Homo sapiens: one gene and its partners. The protein of the gene in region 3 interacts with the protein of the main gene of each other region in a pairwise test. Each region holds a gene or a part of one and is shown on either strand. Other genes may lie near its edges.

What was found. Proteins that work in one complex are often made in the same cells at the same time.
Region 1: the proteins of CENPF (region 3) and NUP133 interact in a two-hybrid assay, tested with the Homo sapiens proteins (one study listed by IntAct).
Region 2: the proteins of CENPF (region 3) and CENPE interact in a two-hybrid assay, tested with the Homo sapiens proteins (one study listed by IntAct).

What each region holds. Positions count from the first base shown.
Region 1 is NC_000001.11:229,463,336-229,470,373, reverse strand, and holds part of NUP133 (nuclear pore complex protein Nup133), read left to right. Parts: intron 1-3,617; coding exon 3,618-3,740; intron 3,741-4,854; coding exon 4,855-4,954; intron 4,955-5,498; coding exon 5,499-5,750; intron 5,751-6,697; coding exon 6,698-6,831; intron 6,832-7,038. UniProt on the Homo sapiens protein: Involved in poly(A)+ RNA transport. Involved in nephrogenesis.
Region 2 is NC_000004.12:103,195,338-103,202,175, reverse strand, and holds the start of CENPE (centromere-associated protein E isoform 1 precursor), read left to right. Parts: upstream 1-3,832; 5' UTR 3,833-3,856; coding exon 3,857-3,912; intron 3,913-5,325; coding exon 5,326-5,417; intron 5,418-5,923; coding exon 5,924-6,013; intron 6,014-6,137; coding exon 6,138-6,256; intron 6,257-6,838. UniProt on the Homo sapiens protein: Microtubule plus-end-directed kinetochore motor which plays an important role in chromosome congression, microtubule-kinetochore conjugation and spindle assembly checkpoint activation.
Region 3 is NC_000001.11:214,662,180-214,665,094, forward strand, and holds the end of CENPF (centromere protein F), read left to right. Parts: intron 1-1,411; coding exon 1,412-1,615; 3' UTR 1,616-2,392; downstream 2,393-2,915. UniProt on the Homo sapiens protein: Required for kinetochore function and chromosome segregation in mitosis. Required for kinetochore localization of dynein, LIS1, NDE1 and NDEL1.

The DNA of each region.
Region 1 (7,038 bases), about 15 Mb from region 3:
AGTGCTCCCTGTTTACTTTTTTCCCCCAATAACTGTCTCCAAGTACCTATTTGCTTTGCATGCTGATCTTCTTTTTTTTTTTTTTTGAGATGGAGTCTCACTCTGTTGCCCGGGTTCCAGTGATTCTCCTACCTCAGCCTCCCGAGTAGCTGGGATTACAGGTGCTAGCCACCACCCCGGCTAATTTTCATATTTTTAGTAGAGATGGGGTTTGATGTCGAACTCCTGACCTCAGGTGATCCACTCGCCTCAGCCTCCCAAAGTGCTGGGATTACAGGCGTGAGCTACTGCATCCATCCTGATCTTCTCCTTTGTCTCTCTCGATCTACTCTTTTTTCTGGGGGCAGGGGGCACTAAGTCTTGCTCTGTTGCCAGGCTGGAGTGCAACAGTGCAATGTCGGCTCACTGCAACCTCTGCCTCCTGGCTTCAAGCAATTCTCCTGCCTCAGCCTCCCAAGTAGCTGGGACTACAGGCATGTGCCACCATGCCCAGCTAATTTTTGTATTTTTAGTAGAGACCTGGTTTCACCCTTGTTGGCCAGGCAGATCTACTCTTGACTCTGCCACAGCAAGGTGGCCTTCCTGAATGGGCTCCCTTGCCCTCCGGCTTCTGCCAGGTCAGATGAATGTGAGGCCCTGCCATAAGGCCAGAAGTTGGAGTAGTTATTCTGCCAGCTTTCTTCCTTGCCTGTGCGCACTTTACATTGGCTGTGCCCCTCTGTCAGGGACTGTGCCTCCTGTCCAACTGCTTTCTCTGTGTTTCCAGTAGCTGCCCCCTCCTTGTGCCTCTTCAGGCCTGAGGTTGATAATGCCTCATCCTAGGGTGCTGCCCCATCCCTTTTTGGACCCCTTAATCTTGCCCACACCTTTGCAAACAGTACCTTCACTGAACTCCTCAGCTACCTCCTAGGATCCTGTTGCTACACCTTGCTTGTAGAATCAGATTTATTTTCAGAGAAAAAGTAAAGTCTGCTACAAACTTCAAAGACAGAAATGGTTAAGATGCTGGGCAGCCAGTGGCAGCTGGACATTGTGGAAATAGTGACGCAGTCCTCGTGCTTTTGTGAAGCTTCACAGCCTGATGAGGCAGCAAGGCAGACTTCGCTGTCTCCCTTTAAAGGTGTGACATTAGAACTTAGACCTGTTGTCTTAACTGAGACTGCAGAACTATCTGGTTTTAGAAACAGGGCCAGCTCTTCCCTGAGCTCTGTGAAATTTGGAATTCCTTATGCATTTGAGGAACTTCAAACTCTATTTGGTGTCTCAAATTTTGCTTCCTTCCTCCTATAGCCTAGCTGTATTCTAACATGTAGCACACTGTGCCGACAAGTCTCTTTTTCTTAATGTTTGATGTACTGTAACCTAAGTTTGATGTACTATAACCTAAATTCAGTCTTCCTGTTGATTCCATAAATGTGTTTAGTGTGAATTCTTTGCTTTTATGCATTTGGGTTAGTTCCTGGGGAATGGAAGGAAAAGCACTTTGTTATGTTTTGTTTTTAATCTAGACAGTATGCCAGAAATCTGAAAGAAAAACAAATCACCTCAAGTTTCATGATCTAACAAATCAAGTTGTTGTCATTTTTGTGTCCTTTTTGGTCTTTATTCATATATAATTTTATATGATAAGACAATTTTTTAAAATTAATTACAGACTACTTGTAAGAACTGAGCAAGAGCCTGGTTCATTATTCTGCATTTGGATCAAAGGGCAAAGTATAAGTGTCAATTTAGTGTATGTACATGTTTCAGTTAGCTGAATTATTGGAGAAGGGTCTGGAAATTATCAGTTGGATACATATAGAATAATATTTTAGGAATATGATACAGCAAAACTAAAAATGTGATTGGCTCCTCAAAAGAATGTTCCATATGAAAAATGGTAATGTTTAGGACTGTTCCTGTCACTATTTATCTTCATTTCTCATGATGTTCGTTGGTCTTTAGCTTCTCTGGGGTGTAGTTATAAAGGTTTTCTCCCGTGTCATAATGATCATGAAAAGAGAATACAATAGCTATATGCATATAGTAGTTTTTCTTTCTTTTTACCTGTCCTTCCACTTGGGGGTGACAAGTTACCTGTCTAAGGAGTATTTGTGTTTTGGGACGAGCTGGTTAACCAAAATCAATCTCTGATTGGTGGGCCATATAGAACGATATTTTGACTTGGCAGCCCTGATAGAAAGTAAAACAATACAGAGCTGCCTGAGGGTGCGCTCTCCACTTTGACTCTGTCTCCAGTTTGGGAAGGCCTTGTACCTCCCAGGGCTCTGGAAAAGCAGAGCTCACTGCTTAAGGAACAGACTATGTTGACACGGCATATGAGCAATATTTGAAATCACTGAATATATACATGATAAGAGAATTTAACAAGTGTTTTGGCATTTTATGTGCTTTTATGTTATTTTCTGTCTTTTATATTATATATGCTTTCCTTTTTTTTTTTTTTTGAGACTGAGTCTTGCTCTGTCGCCAGGCTGGAGTGCAGTGACACAATCTCTGCTCACCGCAGCCTCGGCCTCCTTGGTTCAAGCAATTCTCCTGCCTCAGCCTCCCAAGTAGCCGGGACTCCAGGTGCACGCCACGACGCCCAGCTAATTTTTGTATTTTTAGTGGAGACAGGGTTTCACCATGTTTTCCAGGATGGTCTTGATCTCTTGACCTTGTGATCCACCCACCTCCAAAGTGCTGGGATTGCAGGCATGAGCCACCGCACCCGGCCATTATATAGGCTTTCATTGTGTTTTTCATGTTAACAATGTAAAATATTCTTACACTTAAGCTTATAAATTAAATGTGCTAAAGATTTCTTGCCTGGGCTGTTAGGATGCCTTTGGCTAACATCAGAAATGCAAAAGGAAGAACAAGGTTTGCAAAAGGGAGGGATTTTGTTTGGGTCATGTTTTATCTGTGCCTATATAACTTGTTCCTTCAGCCAGTTTGTGAGGTCCTTGAGGGCAGCTAATCTGATTTTTCTTTCCTCTTATCTCTGAGTGTCCATTGCTATGCAAACTCTAAATAATGGGGGGAAAGCTTAAGTGCAGACTTGAACTTGAAACAGGAGTTTCAGTGCCTGATGGTATTTTTGCACTGTTATCTCCATGTATTAATTAATGACAAAGGAAGAGTTAGAAGTTATGTATTTAGTTCATTCTCTTATGTTGCTTACTTCTGTTCTACAAATGTTTCTGTTATGTCTGAAGAAGGGGAATTCCTCAAAGAAAGAAATTAGCAAGTTCACTTTTTGAGGTCATTATTTTAGTCTATTAGTTCATTAGTTTGGGGTATTACATTGTAAAGTGATGTCATCTGTAACCTAGTGCTATTTAAAGATGCACTGAGCAGAGTAGCTATAATAAAAAATATCATCGCTTAAAAATCTCAGTAACAATCCAGAATTTGCCTGTTTATAAGACTTATTTGGGCACTCTGACTTTTAAAAGTTAGGAGATGTGACTTTTCTTGATTTTTGAATTTATTTTTACCATCAACTGCCAATAAATTTTCCTCCATCTATAGGTCTGAGGATATGGCTTAATGAGTAAAACTCACTGGGTAGTTGTTACCCATCACCATAATTTTTGTTGTAAGTAGTTTACTTCTGTGTATTCTCTCAGGTATCCCAAGTAGATACCATCTGTGAGTGCTTACTGGAGCATGAGGAGCAAGTCTTGAGGGATGCACCTATGGATTCCATTGAATGGGCTGAAGTGGTGATCAATGTGAACAATATTCTCAAGGTACAAAAATATAGTAAAGGCTTCAGCAAATCAAAGCCCAGGGCATGGATAGACAAGGAACTGGTTTCCATGTTCCTACTCTGTATTGCCGATAATGTATAAGGTTGTAGACATTTGTTAATCCCAAAAAAGTTAGAAAAATGTCATTTTATTATTAATCAGCTAATGAGTATTTTGAATGTTAGCCTGGTGCCTATTAATAAATTTCTATAATCTTGAGTTTCTATTTGGTAGAATAATAAACCTTTCATTTGGGAAGATGTGTTTGTATCTTTGCAATTTTTTAGTTGGTTTTTTTTCTGAGAGAAGGTCTCACTGTCACCCAAGCTGGAGTGCAGTGGCACCATCATAGCTCACTGTAACCTTGAACTCTGGGCTCACGACTTCCTCCTGCCTCAACCTCCAAGAGTGTTGGGATTACAGAACTGAGACACCATGCCTGATTGCAAACGTATTGTTAATGTAACTGTCTAAATATTTCTCATTTCTATTTTTTTAATTACTCAAAACCTTGCTACTTTTACTATTGACTAAAACGTTCCATTTAATTTTAGCTAGTGGACTTGTAGTAATGATTTTCCTACTTTGCCAAATAATTTTCCTACTATTATTTGCCAAAACTGAAGTTAAATTATGGAGTAAAACAAATTTCAAAAGCAGAAAGAACCAAAAAGTAATCATGCAGATCTGTGCTGACTTTTTTCTCTCATTTTCTTTTCTTTTCTTTTTTTTTTTTTTTTTGTGAGACATGGTCTCACTCCATTGCCCAGGCTGGGTTTATAGTGGCTTGATTATAGCTCACTGCAGCCTCCACCTCCTGGGCTCAAGCAGTCCTCCTGCCTCAGTCTCCCAAGTAGCTGGGACGGTAGGTGCACGCCACGATGCCCAGGTAATTTTAAAAATTTTTTGTACAGATGGGGTCTCACTATGTTGTCAGGCTAGGAGCAATCCTCCTACCTCAGCCTCCCAAAGCACTGGGATTACAGGTGTGAGCCAACATTCCTGGCCCCTGAGTATTTTTTCTTACTAATTTACTTTGCTGTCTTAAATTATCTTCAGAAATACTGTGATCCATCACCTTTTGCATGTGATAACACATTAACTTTTTTTCCAGGATATGCTGCAGGCTGCTAGTCATTATCGCCAAAATAGAAACTCTTTGTATAGAAGAGAAGAATCACTAGAAAAAGAACCTGAATATGTTCCATGGACGGGTAATATACTGATTTATTAACAGTTGTTCAAAATATATTTCTAATGACCCATCATTTTTAGAAGTTGTGTTATTCCCCTAGCGTAGGTTTGTAAGTGAAATGAAAAAGTGCCGTCTCCAAAATGAGCAGCTCTTGTCAAAATCACTTTATTCGTCCCTTGCTCTTATTTATCGATCTCTCTATAATTTATGTATTCAACTGGTACTTATGCATTTACTAGGTTTTAGTTCAAATAGTTATTCATAGAAGCAGTCCTGGCCCCGGAGGTATGGACTATATTTTATGTTGATTTAATACAAGAAAGTAAGTGGAGTAGCATTAAAGGAATTTAGAAGGAAGAAGAGTCATGTTTACCTGGCTTTGCTGAGGAAATCTCCTTGGAGAAGATGGGATTCAAGCAGGGCATTGACAGGTATCACCTGAATCCCTGTTCAATGTAATTTTCCAGCAGTGATGAAGAGGCATAATTTTTATGCTATTAGTCTTTCCTTTAGCCATCACTAGATCCCTTACTTTAACCATATTATTTTGTGTAATTTCACAGCAACAAGTGGTCCTGGTGGCATCCGAACGGTAATAATACGCCAGCATGAGATTGTCCTGAAGGTGGCTTATCCACAGGCAGACAGCAACCTCCGAAACATCGTGACCGAGCAGCTGGTAGCCCTGATCGATTGCTTCCTGGATGGTTATGTTTCTCAGCTTAAGTCTGTGGATAAATCCAGTAATCGGGAAAGATATGACAATCTGGAGATGGAATACCTACAGAAAAGATCAGATCTCTTATCTCCTCTTCGTAAGTTCATGATACTTGGCAAGAGTTTTAAATTTGCTGAATGGATGAAAGGGTTGAATAGTTAATTCAGTATATTCAGTGTGGTAGTGTTAATCCAACTGTAATAAAGAACTTAAAGCAAATATGCACAGCTTTCTGTGCTCATTTATTCAACTTTTTTTCCAGTACTATCTAGGTATAAGTACCATAGATGATACTGAAGACAATTAATAAATACATAAACAAACAACATGTGGAGACTACCCTTAAAGAGCTTAGCATCACAGACCTTTACGTGAATAACTGGATTGCAAAGTAGAGCCTGGTGAGGGCTGCTTGAGGGGTACAGATAAGATATTATGGCTGTTTGGCAAAGGACACATTATACTCCAGGCTAGGACTGGGAAGAGTTTGCTTTACTCTTACATGAAGGAAGAGAATAGCGTTTTGGGGAGGCAGTGATGAAACAAGGGTCTGAATTTGCATCTTTTTTTTTTGTTGAGACAGAGCGTCACTCTCTCGCCCAGGCTGTAGTGCAGTGGTATAATCTCAGCTCACTGCAACCTCCATCTCCCGGGTTCAAACAATTCTCCTGCCTCAGCCTCCCAGGTAGCTGGGATTACAGGCGTGTGCCACCACAACTGGCTAATTTTGTATTTTTGGTAGGGATGGGGTTTCACCATATTGGCCTGGCGGGACTCGAACTCCTGACCTCAGGTGATCCACCCGCCTCAGCCTCCCAAAGTGCTGGGATTACAGGTGTGAGCCACCGCACCTGGCCTGAATTTGCATCTTTAAGAAATTGATGTGAATTGTGAAACTAAGTGCCAGTAAGTGGGAAGGTTTCCATTCCATTAATGATTGTTGGTTTATAATAGGAATAAAGATAAAATTTCAAGTAACATTTTTTATTACAGATTTTAAGTTTTGCTAACAGGATTTTTTCCCATCTTTTCTCATTCCCACAGTTTCACTAGGCCAGTACCTGTGGGCTGCTTCTCTAGCAGAGAAATACTGTGACTTTGATATATTGGTACAAATGTGTGAGCAGACTGACAACCAGAGCCGACTCCAGCGCTACATGACCCAGTTTGCTGATCAGGTGATGAGTGTTGGGTGTGTGGCCACTGAGTCCTTTAGTTGCCTTTTCTTGAAATGGCTTTGCCATTTCAAATCTGTAATCAGGGCTTTTGGAATATGATACGATCTTTTTGTAGTTAACTTTGATGAGAAGATACTAATTTGTATGTCGCGTTTCTTTGTAAATTTTGTCCAGTAGCGAGATCACAGTTCACGACAGCCTCAACCT
Region 2 (6,838 bases), on a different chromosome or scaffold from region 3:
TCTAAAAGTTACAAATAATCTTGTAACTAATTTAAGAAGAAGATTTAAGAAATAGAAGTAACATACAATGGAGTTGGTGTTTTATAGAGAGAGAGCTATGAGAGGGTGACATTTGAGTAAACACTGGAATCAATGGGAAGGAGGGAAACATGTATATCTGGAGTGAAAGCCTTCCATCCAGACACAGCAGCCAGTGCAAAGGTCTCAAGAGGGGGTTTGTCTGGGATTCAGGAAACTGCCCATGGCCCGTGTGGCTGGAGTGGGGAGAGCAAAGGGGAGGGACAGTGGTAGGAGGTAAGGCCAGAGCACAAACAAAGGGCAAGATCATGTGAGGCTTGGGAGACAACTGAAAGACGTTGGGTTTTGTTCTGAGAGAAATCAGAGGGTGGGGGTGAAGGTGTGGCACTGGGGGTCTTGAGAGAGGAGTGACATGATCTGACACATTTTCACAGAATCATTCAAATTGCTGTGTTGAGAACAGACTGGCAGTGGGGGTGGGCAAGGGTGGAAACACTGAGATTAGCTCAGTGCCAGATGATGATATTTCGGACCAGGTAGCTGAAGCGTAAGTTGTGACAAACTTTTCATAGTCTGAAATTTTCTCAAGGTGGCCCTGACAGAATTTTCAGGTGAGAAGCTGAGCAGCATGGCTCCAGAGTCTGCACCTGGATAACTGGAAGGATGGACTTGCCAACAACTGAGAAGCAGAAAACTGCTGATTGAGCAGATTTTGAGGGGAAGAGCATGAATTTGGTATTAGACATTTTAAGTTTGCCATATATATTAGACACTCAATATGGGAGGAATTAAGGCATATGTTTGCTGTTAAGACTGGTTTTCTAGAGCAGGAGAAAATGACAAGCAGGACAGAGAGTGAGAAGGAGAGGACTGTATCCAGTGCACACATGGAGAGTTTCCAGAGTGGAAAACACACAGATGTTTATAAAGTTACAGTCTGGAAGGCGAGTATGCAAGCACAAATGCACATAGTGAGTAGCCAGATTGACAGGAATTAGGGCAAAGTCTTTTCTGGAAGCTTCTATTTTCATAGTGAAATAAAGAGTGTCTTGTTTGAAGGAATTAATGAATCCCTTTTTACCCCCTTGCTTAAAACCCTCCATAGGCTTCCCCTCACCCTTGAGAATAAGATCCAAACATTTTATCACAGCCCACAAGGCCCCATGGGTCCTGGACCTGGACCTGCCTACCTCTCTCCATTGCCACAAATGCTTCAGTCACAGGGCCCTCCCCTTTGTGTCTCAGACAGATGACAAACTCGATCAAGCCTTGGCTTCTTTGACTTACTTGTTCCTCTGTCTGGTACGCCCTTTCTCTTGTCCTCCCAAGTCTGGCTCACTCTTCTCACATAGGTTTCACTTCAAAGGTCACCTCCTCAGGTCTTTCTTGAACATCTCATCTAAAATAAACCTTCCTCCCAACACATTATTTTACTATATATTTGTTATGTATTGTCTGCTGCTTCCCACAAGAATGTGTTTCATAAGAAACTAGCACTCTTAACCCACCTTATCACTCTCTCTCTGTCTCCTGATCCTATTAATCATTACATTATGTGTGTGTGTGTGTGTGTGTGTGTGTGTGTGTGTGTGTGTGTGTAGAGAGAGAGAGAGAGAGACTGAGATTTTTCTGTATTACCCATCTCCTCTAAGAGAATAGCAACTCTACAACAACAGGTACTGTGTCTATTCTATTTACTGTTGTGCTTCCTGACCTTAGAACCGTATCTGGCACATAACAGTTGTTCAATGAATATTTCTTGATGAACAATTTGGAAAGTCAGATGAAAAAATTGGATAGAGAGCATATAATAGAGAGCCTGGCATATAGTAAATCTTCAATAAATGTCACCTGCTGTGATGATAAAAAAAGACAGTCATAGCAACGATCATAAGCACAACTATGAAAGGCTGATGACTTCTCTTTACTCGTGAACCAATCTCCTCTTGTCTCATTAGAAATTTTGATTAATCACATCTCCCTTCTTCTTCATAGGTTCCTTGCCTTCAGCTGTCTCATATTTGCCCACAATTAAAACAAAAACAACAGTTAAAATATACCTTCCTTAACTCTGTATTTTCTTACTAGATACAACCAAGTATCTTTACAGTCTAGCAATAAAAAAGAGTTGTTTATACTACCTCACAGCTAGTTAACCAAAACAAATCTTGAATGAATAGACTCATTTTTCTTTACTGTTCTTATCTATAAACTAGTTTCTTTAAATTGAAAGAAACTACTTTCATCTAACTCAGTCTACCATCTAACTCAGTCCTCACTCTGCAAGGAAATTAGGCATATTCTGTGTATCTTTCCAAAAATTATGTATGTATATCCAGACATATTCTGTGTACATAACCGTGCACCTTGAATTTCTCTTAATAAATGAAACATCTTGGATAGCTTTCTAAAGTACACATAAAAAGCTAGGCCAGGCACGATGGCTCATGCTTGTAATCCCAGCACTTTGGGAGGCCAAGGCAAGGAGGATTGCTTGAGCCTAGGAGTTCAAGACCTGCCTAGGCAACACTGTGAGACCCCACTCCCTACCCTAATCCCCCCACCACCCCGTCTCTACAAAAAAATTTAAAAATTATCTGGGCTTGTGATGTGCCTGTAATCCAAGCTACTCAGGAGGTTAAGGTGGGAACCCCACTTGGGCTGAGGCCAGGAGTTGAGCCTGCAGTGAGCTGTGTTCAGCCTACTGCACTCTAGCCTAGGTGACAAAGCAAGAACTCATGTTTATTTAAAAAAAAAAAAAAAAAAAAAAGAGAGAGAGAGAAGAAAGGGAAAATAAGCATTATTTTTGGGAAAAAATCACTGTATTTAGAATAGCTTTCCCTCTTAGTTAATAAAAGTAACAAACCAGGCCAGGAGCGGTGGCTCACGCCTTTAATCCCAGCACTTTTGGAGACCGAGGCAAGTGGATCACCTGAGGTCAGGACTTTGAGACCAGCCTTGCCAACATGGCGAAGCCCCGTCTCTACTAAAAATACAAAAATTACCTGGGCGTGGTGGCGGGCACCTTGTAATCCCAGCTACTGGGGAGGCTGAGGCAGGAGAATCACTTGAATGCAGGAGGTGGAGGCTGCAATGAGCAGAGATAAGCACCACTGCACTCCAGCCTGGGGTGACAGAGCGAGACTCCGTTTCCAAAAAAAAGAAGAAAAAAAAAGTATCAACCCATTACTCAATGAGTTTTTCAGTCCTCGGTATTTATTTTCCCTAATTCAACCTCTGAGGAAGCCACAGCTAATGGAAACGAGTTACAGAGAGAGAGAAACAGGAGAAAAGCCTAAACTCAGATTTTCTAAGGCGCACAACAGGCTTGTCACGTTTCTGGACTGGACAGCGAATTTCAACTCTTGCTGTTGAAAGTTTATTTTAAACTGTTGGTGCAGTTTCTTTAAAAGACGGCAATTCTGTTTGGGTAGTGAAAAATACATGTATCTCTACCTAGTTTCGTCTACAGGTTCCAAACTTTTTAAGGATGGGGTGGAGGATGACGTTCGCTAGCTTTTGGCAGATAATAGTATTCTGGTATTCCAGGACCACCACTCTCTGCCCACTCCTGGGAGCCCCTCCCTTCGGCCCTCTCCTCCGACTCTCTGCTGGGCCCTTTAAATCCCCTCTCCTGTTTAGCAGTGGTCACGCCGCCCGCCTTGCGTCCCCCGCGCTGCTCCGCACGTGGAATGGCCCATGACGTCACGAGGCCACGGCTCAATCAGATGCGGCGTTTGGGAAATTTTAAATTTAAAGGCGGGGCGGCCTGTGAGCCCTGAAGTGCCGGCCGCGGAGGGTCCTGGCCATTTTCCTGGGACCAGTTCAGCCTGATAGGATGGCGGAGGAAGGAGCCGTGGCCGTCTGCGTGCGAGTGCGGCCGCTGAACAGCAGGTAGGGGGGCCACACCACGGCCCGGTGCCCGCTGGGCCTGCGGCGCCGCCCTGAGCCGGAGGGGCGAGGCCTACGATGTTTCCAGGAGCCGCTGCTTCCCGGCTCTGCTGTCTAGTGACTCGGCTGCTGGCCATCGTTTCAGGGTCTGTAAAGTGACAGGGGAGGATCGGAGATCTAGAAGATACTTTCCAGCTGCGAGATTCACTTAAATTTAACTCAGTCTCGCTGACATACAGACCTTCCCTTCTGTGCTGCTCTGCCTTGCGGCATCTGCTCCTCCCTGCCCCATTCCCCGCCTAGAGAAGTCGTATGGGACCGTGCCTTCCTGGCCCTCATCACAGTTAGTCATTTTACACCTAACTGCTGTCTCCAGACCCTCTGAAGACAAGGGCTAGTCTGTCTTGTCACATTACATTCAATCGTCACTCAAGATCATTCTACAAATATTTATCAATTTTTTTTTAGTGACTTTGTACAACACAGACACTCCCGTCATTGCCCAGTGGCTCTTCCATTCTAATGGGACGAGACAGAAAGTAAAGTTGAAAATGTAGGATGTTAAGTGGTGATATGTAGGTAATAAGTGCTAGGGAGAAAAAGCAGGAAGAGGAATAAATGAAATCGGTTTGCTTCACTAGCTTCTGGCCCTCGACCCGAAATGCTAACACTTTGTGTGTGTGAGAAATTTTTATTGAACACGGGGTTTAATAAATGCAAATACCAAGATCAGGAATTTCCTATTTTTGAGGAGCTCATTATCTAATGCCTTAAACGGCTACATAAAGAAACCATTAGGATACCTTTTGACAAGTGTTATGATGGGCAGGTAGAGAATGTTTGCTAGAGGAGTTATTAGCCCATCAGAGACGAAAGCTTCCCGTGGGGTGAACTGGTGTCAGAAAAGTCTTGACGCTTTTCATGAGTGAAATAATCCCTATGTTACTTAATGGAAAGGGAAGTCAGAGTATTCCAGGCACAGAGAGGTTACATCTGTCATTTGGGGAAGACCTTCAGGTAGAGCTTAGGATGTATCTAGGAATTCAGAGGAAAATGGAAGAGAGAAATGACATGATCTAGGACTCGTGCCCTGCTGAGGATTTCATAAGTTTCCAAAAGGTTTTAAGAATTTTAAGCAAGACAGACATAATCAGAGTTGCATTTTGAATCCATCCCTTTGTTTACCAGTACTGGGGGAGAGGGTGAGAATGAAAGCCTTCACAAGAAAACACTTTTGAGGCGGCAGAAGGTCACTGAAGCTCCATTTAAGAGTTGAATCCTCAAAGATGGACTTTCTGTCATTCTCTTATGTTACTATCTTTCAAAATATTCTTTAGCAGGTGAAATCTTTTCAATTATTCCTCCTATGACATGACTTTTATGACTGGTTAAAATGCGGTGTTTTTATTCTTTTAGAGAAGAATCACTTGGAGAAACTGCCCAAGTTTACTGGAAAACTGACAATAATGTCATTTATCAAGTTGATGGAAGTAAATCCTTCAATTTTGGTAAGCTTATAATAGCATCAAAAGTTACCTTGTTATCCTTTTGCTATTAAAAGTACAAAAGGCTTATCAATAATATTAGATTTGTCACTAAAGATTAGACTAAGCCTTCTATAAACTGCTTCACTGGAAACAAAATTGTTTATCCATCATGTATTTAAGTAAGGTAACCAATTGGCATTTAAAACAGTTATAATCACAGTTATCTAATTTGCATCTAGGTAGATTCCAGACCCCCATGTGCAAACACTATACCTTATTGCCTCTTGAAAGAACATAGAAAAGTTGACTTGTAGTGTATTTTTTGTGTGTGAAAATGAACTCATTTTACCTTAGGGAAGGGTATTTTCAGAGAACCAAAAAGTTGAAAAAAATACTGTGTCTTAAATAGTTGATCATCCTACATTCTGACAGTTTTACTTTTGGGAATAATTACTAATTTGGAATGAAAACACAGTGGACTCATTTGATTTAACTTCTGTGTTGTTGTTGTTGTTGTTGTTGTTTAGATCGTGTCTTTCATGGTAATGAAACTACCAAAAATGTGTATGAAGAAATAGCAGCACCAATCATCGATTCTGCCATACAAGGCTACAATGGTTTGTATTCACTCAATGCTGCAGAAACATTTTAGTCTTGGGCGTCTGTGCAACAAGCATGCATAGTTTTACCCATTATAGGTTTGTTTTTAATCTTTGCGTATGTGTGTTTTGTTTTTTGCAGGTACTATATTTGCCTATGGACAGACTGCTTCAGGAAAAACATATACCATGATGGGTTCAGAAGATCATTTGGGAGTTATACCCAGGGCAATTCATGACATTTTCCAAAAAATTAAGAAGGTAAGTAACTTAACTGGATTTCTAGTACGTACAGGTAAAACTAGTAAAAACTGGGTACCAGTCTTAGTGTATTTCTCTTGTAAAGATGAAAGGAAGTAGATTTACAGTTATTGTTTGATTATCCATGGGGAAAGAAGAAAGGCATAGCATAGATTCACTTTTATCTCCACAACTTACTTTATAAAGCTTAAAGTTCTTTTATTCTTTCTCTTGAATTCTGCAACAATAATACTCTCAACAAAAAGTAGGCATTAAGGAACAAGAAAATGTTATCAGAATGGTTAGCTCCACCTAACCATTTAACTATCAGTGATTATAAAGGAACAGTAGAAAGTGGATGTAGGTAAAAAAAGAAGGGAAGCAGAAAGCCAGAATAGGCAACCGAGTTAGTTGGTTTCAAATTAGCATTTTTATTAAAATAAGAACATCTTTTGAGAGGGTTTTATTTTGAGCCTAGAGTTTGAGCCTAGAGTTGGTGTTCTCCCAGCTTTATGGTACTTCACTTTTCATTATTTCTGTAACGATGCTTTTATATTTTTGTGTTCATTATTTTGTCAACAGTAGAACCAAGGGGTTTCTTAG
Region 3 (2,915 bases):
ACCTAAAGATTTGTTTCTTGTACATCTGGTGGGTTCCAGGGAAACCTTGTCTTTGGAATCACTATTTCTCTTTAAAAAAAAAAAAAAGTACCAGCAAAACTTTGTTTTATTTTTTTCCTTCAACTTTCCATGGATGGTAATTTTCCATTAAGTCCTGACCTTCCAAGGCTGCGTCTTTTCAGTGTCCTGGACACACTCTGAGGGAGAAGTGAGCTTTCCTGGGATTTGATCTGTTGGCCAGATTTACTATGTTTCATGTAATGAAAAGTATTTAACTGCCTTTTTCAAATCACATGCTTCCTATGGAAAGAATATAAATGGGAAAATAATTTCCATTCCCTTTTCTTCTTGCATCAGAAGGAGATCCCTGGAAGTCAGTTGCTCAGGGAGTGTCTGTCACGTAGTTACTTCCCAGCAACTGTGCTGGACACAGATCCTTGTGTCCATTATGCAAGAGGCCCTTCTCCTTTCTCTTTGAAAGATCTTCCTACTTGAATCTTCCACTCTTGCCTTTAACTTTGCTTAGGTGAAGCTTTCCTATACTTCATTTTTCTTGCACTTTTTTCTCTTTTTTGACCGTGTATCTTTTTTCACTACTATATAAATTTCAATTTTTTTTTTTTTAAATCTTGCTCTGTCCCCCAGGCTGGAGTGCAGTGGCACTATCACGGCTCACTGCAGCTTCAAACTCCTGGGCTCAAGCGATCCTCTTGCCTCAGCCTCCTGAGTAGCTGGAACTATAGATGTGAGCCACTAAGCCTGACCCAATTTCAAAAAATCTTCACTCACCAGTTACCTTACTCTCTCATCTACTTAAAGTCTCAAATTTTCTGAGATATCTCTTTCCTTTAAAAGGCAGGATGTTTGAGAGGGGATTTATTCTTTCCGGACTTTATTGTTAGATAGCTGCCCTTCTGCTCTAGTCCAAATTCAATATGGAAACAGTCAGCCATAAAGGGAGAATGATTAAAATACCCTGAACTGGTCCTTGGTCATTTTAAAATTTTCCACCCTGTGGAGGTAGTATTACTCATTTGGGTTACACTTGTTTTAAACAACAGGAATGGCTAGTTAGGACAACAGAGGCAGGTTTTTCACTTAGGAATTCACTGGATGTGTACCATGTGGTCAAGCATGTTGTGGGCTCTAGGGATACATAGGTAAATAGGGCATAGTCTTTGCCATCAGAGGTGCCAAGGGACGTCTGATGACTGGTTAGAGGTTGTACCTGGTATCCTCCTAAGTTCTCTGTTAGATGGGGCCTGTTCTCAAGGAAGAGGAAATACTTCAATTATATATAACTCCTAGAGAAGAAGAACTTAATTTAAAACTTAGTGACATAGTGCTTTATTTTTCATGTTGTGGAAATGTGAATGTGATTGAACCTCTAACAGAGATGTTTGTGTTGCAGGTCAAAGTTGCTCAGCGGAGCCCAGTAGATTCAGGCACCATCCTCCGAGAACCCACCACGAAATCCGTCCCAGTCAATAATCTTCCTGAGAGAAGTCCGACTGACAGCCCCAGAGAGGGCCTGAGGGTCAAGCGAGGCCGACTTGTCCCCAGCCCCAAAGCTGGACTGGAGTCCAACGGCAGTGAGAACTGTAAGGTCCAGTGAAGGCACTTTGTGTGTCAGTACCCCTGGGAGGTGCCAGTCATTGAATAGATAAGGCTGTGCCTACAGGACTTCTCTTTAGTCAGGGCATGCTTTATTAGTGAGGAGAAAACAATTCCTTAGAAGTCTTAAATATATTGTACTCTTTAGATCTCCCATGTGTAGGTATTGAAAAAGTTTGGAAGCACTGATCACCTGTTAGCATTGCCATTCCTCTACTGCAATGTAAATAGTATAAAGCTATGTATATAAAGCTTTTTGGTAATATGTTACAATTAAAATGACAAGCACTATATCACAATCTCTGTTTGTATGTGGGTTTTACACTAAAAAAATGCAAAACACATTTTATTCTTCTAATTAACAGCTCCTAGGAAAATGTAGACTTTTGCTTTATGATATTCTATCTGTAGTATGAGGCATGGAATAGTTTTGTATCGGGAATTTCTCAGAGCTGAGTAAAATGAAGGAAAAGCATGTTATGTGTTTTTAAGGAAAATGTGCACACATATACATGTAGGAGTGTTTATCTTTCTCTTACAATCTGTTTTAGACATCTTTGCTTATGAAACCTGTACATATGTGTGTGTGGGTATGTGTTTATTTCCAGTGAGGGCTGCAGGCTTCCTAGAGGTGTGCTATACCATGCGTCTGTCGTTGTGCTTTTTTCTGTTTTTAGACCAATTTTTTACAGTTCTTTGGTAAGCATTGTCGTATCTGGTGATGGATTAACATATAGCCTTTGTTTTCTAATAAAATAGTCGCCTTCGTTTTCTGTAAGAATGATTCCTAAGTGTAAAGGCATTCGAATATTGGTACTATTTCTTGCTAATTACAACAGCCTCTTATACACGTGAAAATGTTTGAACAAATGATACAGATCTTTAAACAAATGATCTTAGCATCTTTAGTTGTATTAAAAGACACAATTTGGAATACGGGTCATAAGGAGTATATGGGAATATAAGACGTCCAGCCCAGTGCCTCCTACATTCTGTGTCCCCATTAAACCACATCATCAAGGATACAAGTATGTGGTATTTCCCAGCTCACTTGATGATGATATAGTTTTGAAAGCATGCAGGCATTATAAGCCATGTCAGATCCAAAAACATTTGAACAAGTTCTTACATCCTTGAATCAGGGTAAAAAAGTTTCCCAGGGCATGCGCTAGTAAAAGATCATTTGTTCTTGGCTTTCAGTCCAAATTGATGCACAAATTCCGATAAGCACCATCATTTATATTTAAAAGTTGTCCTTCGCAAGGTGGCCTCTGTTGTTGGATAATGCTTCAATAATATTA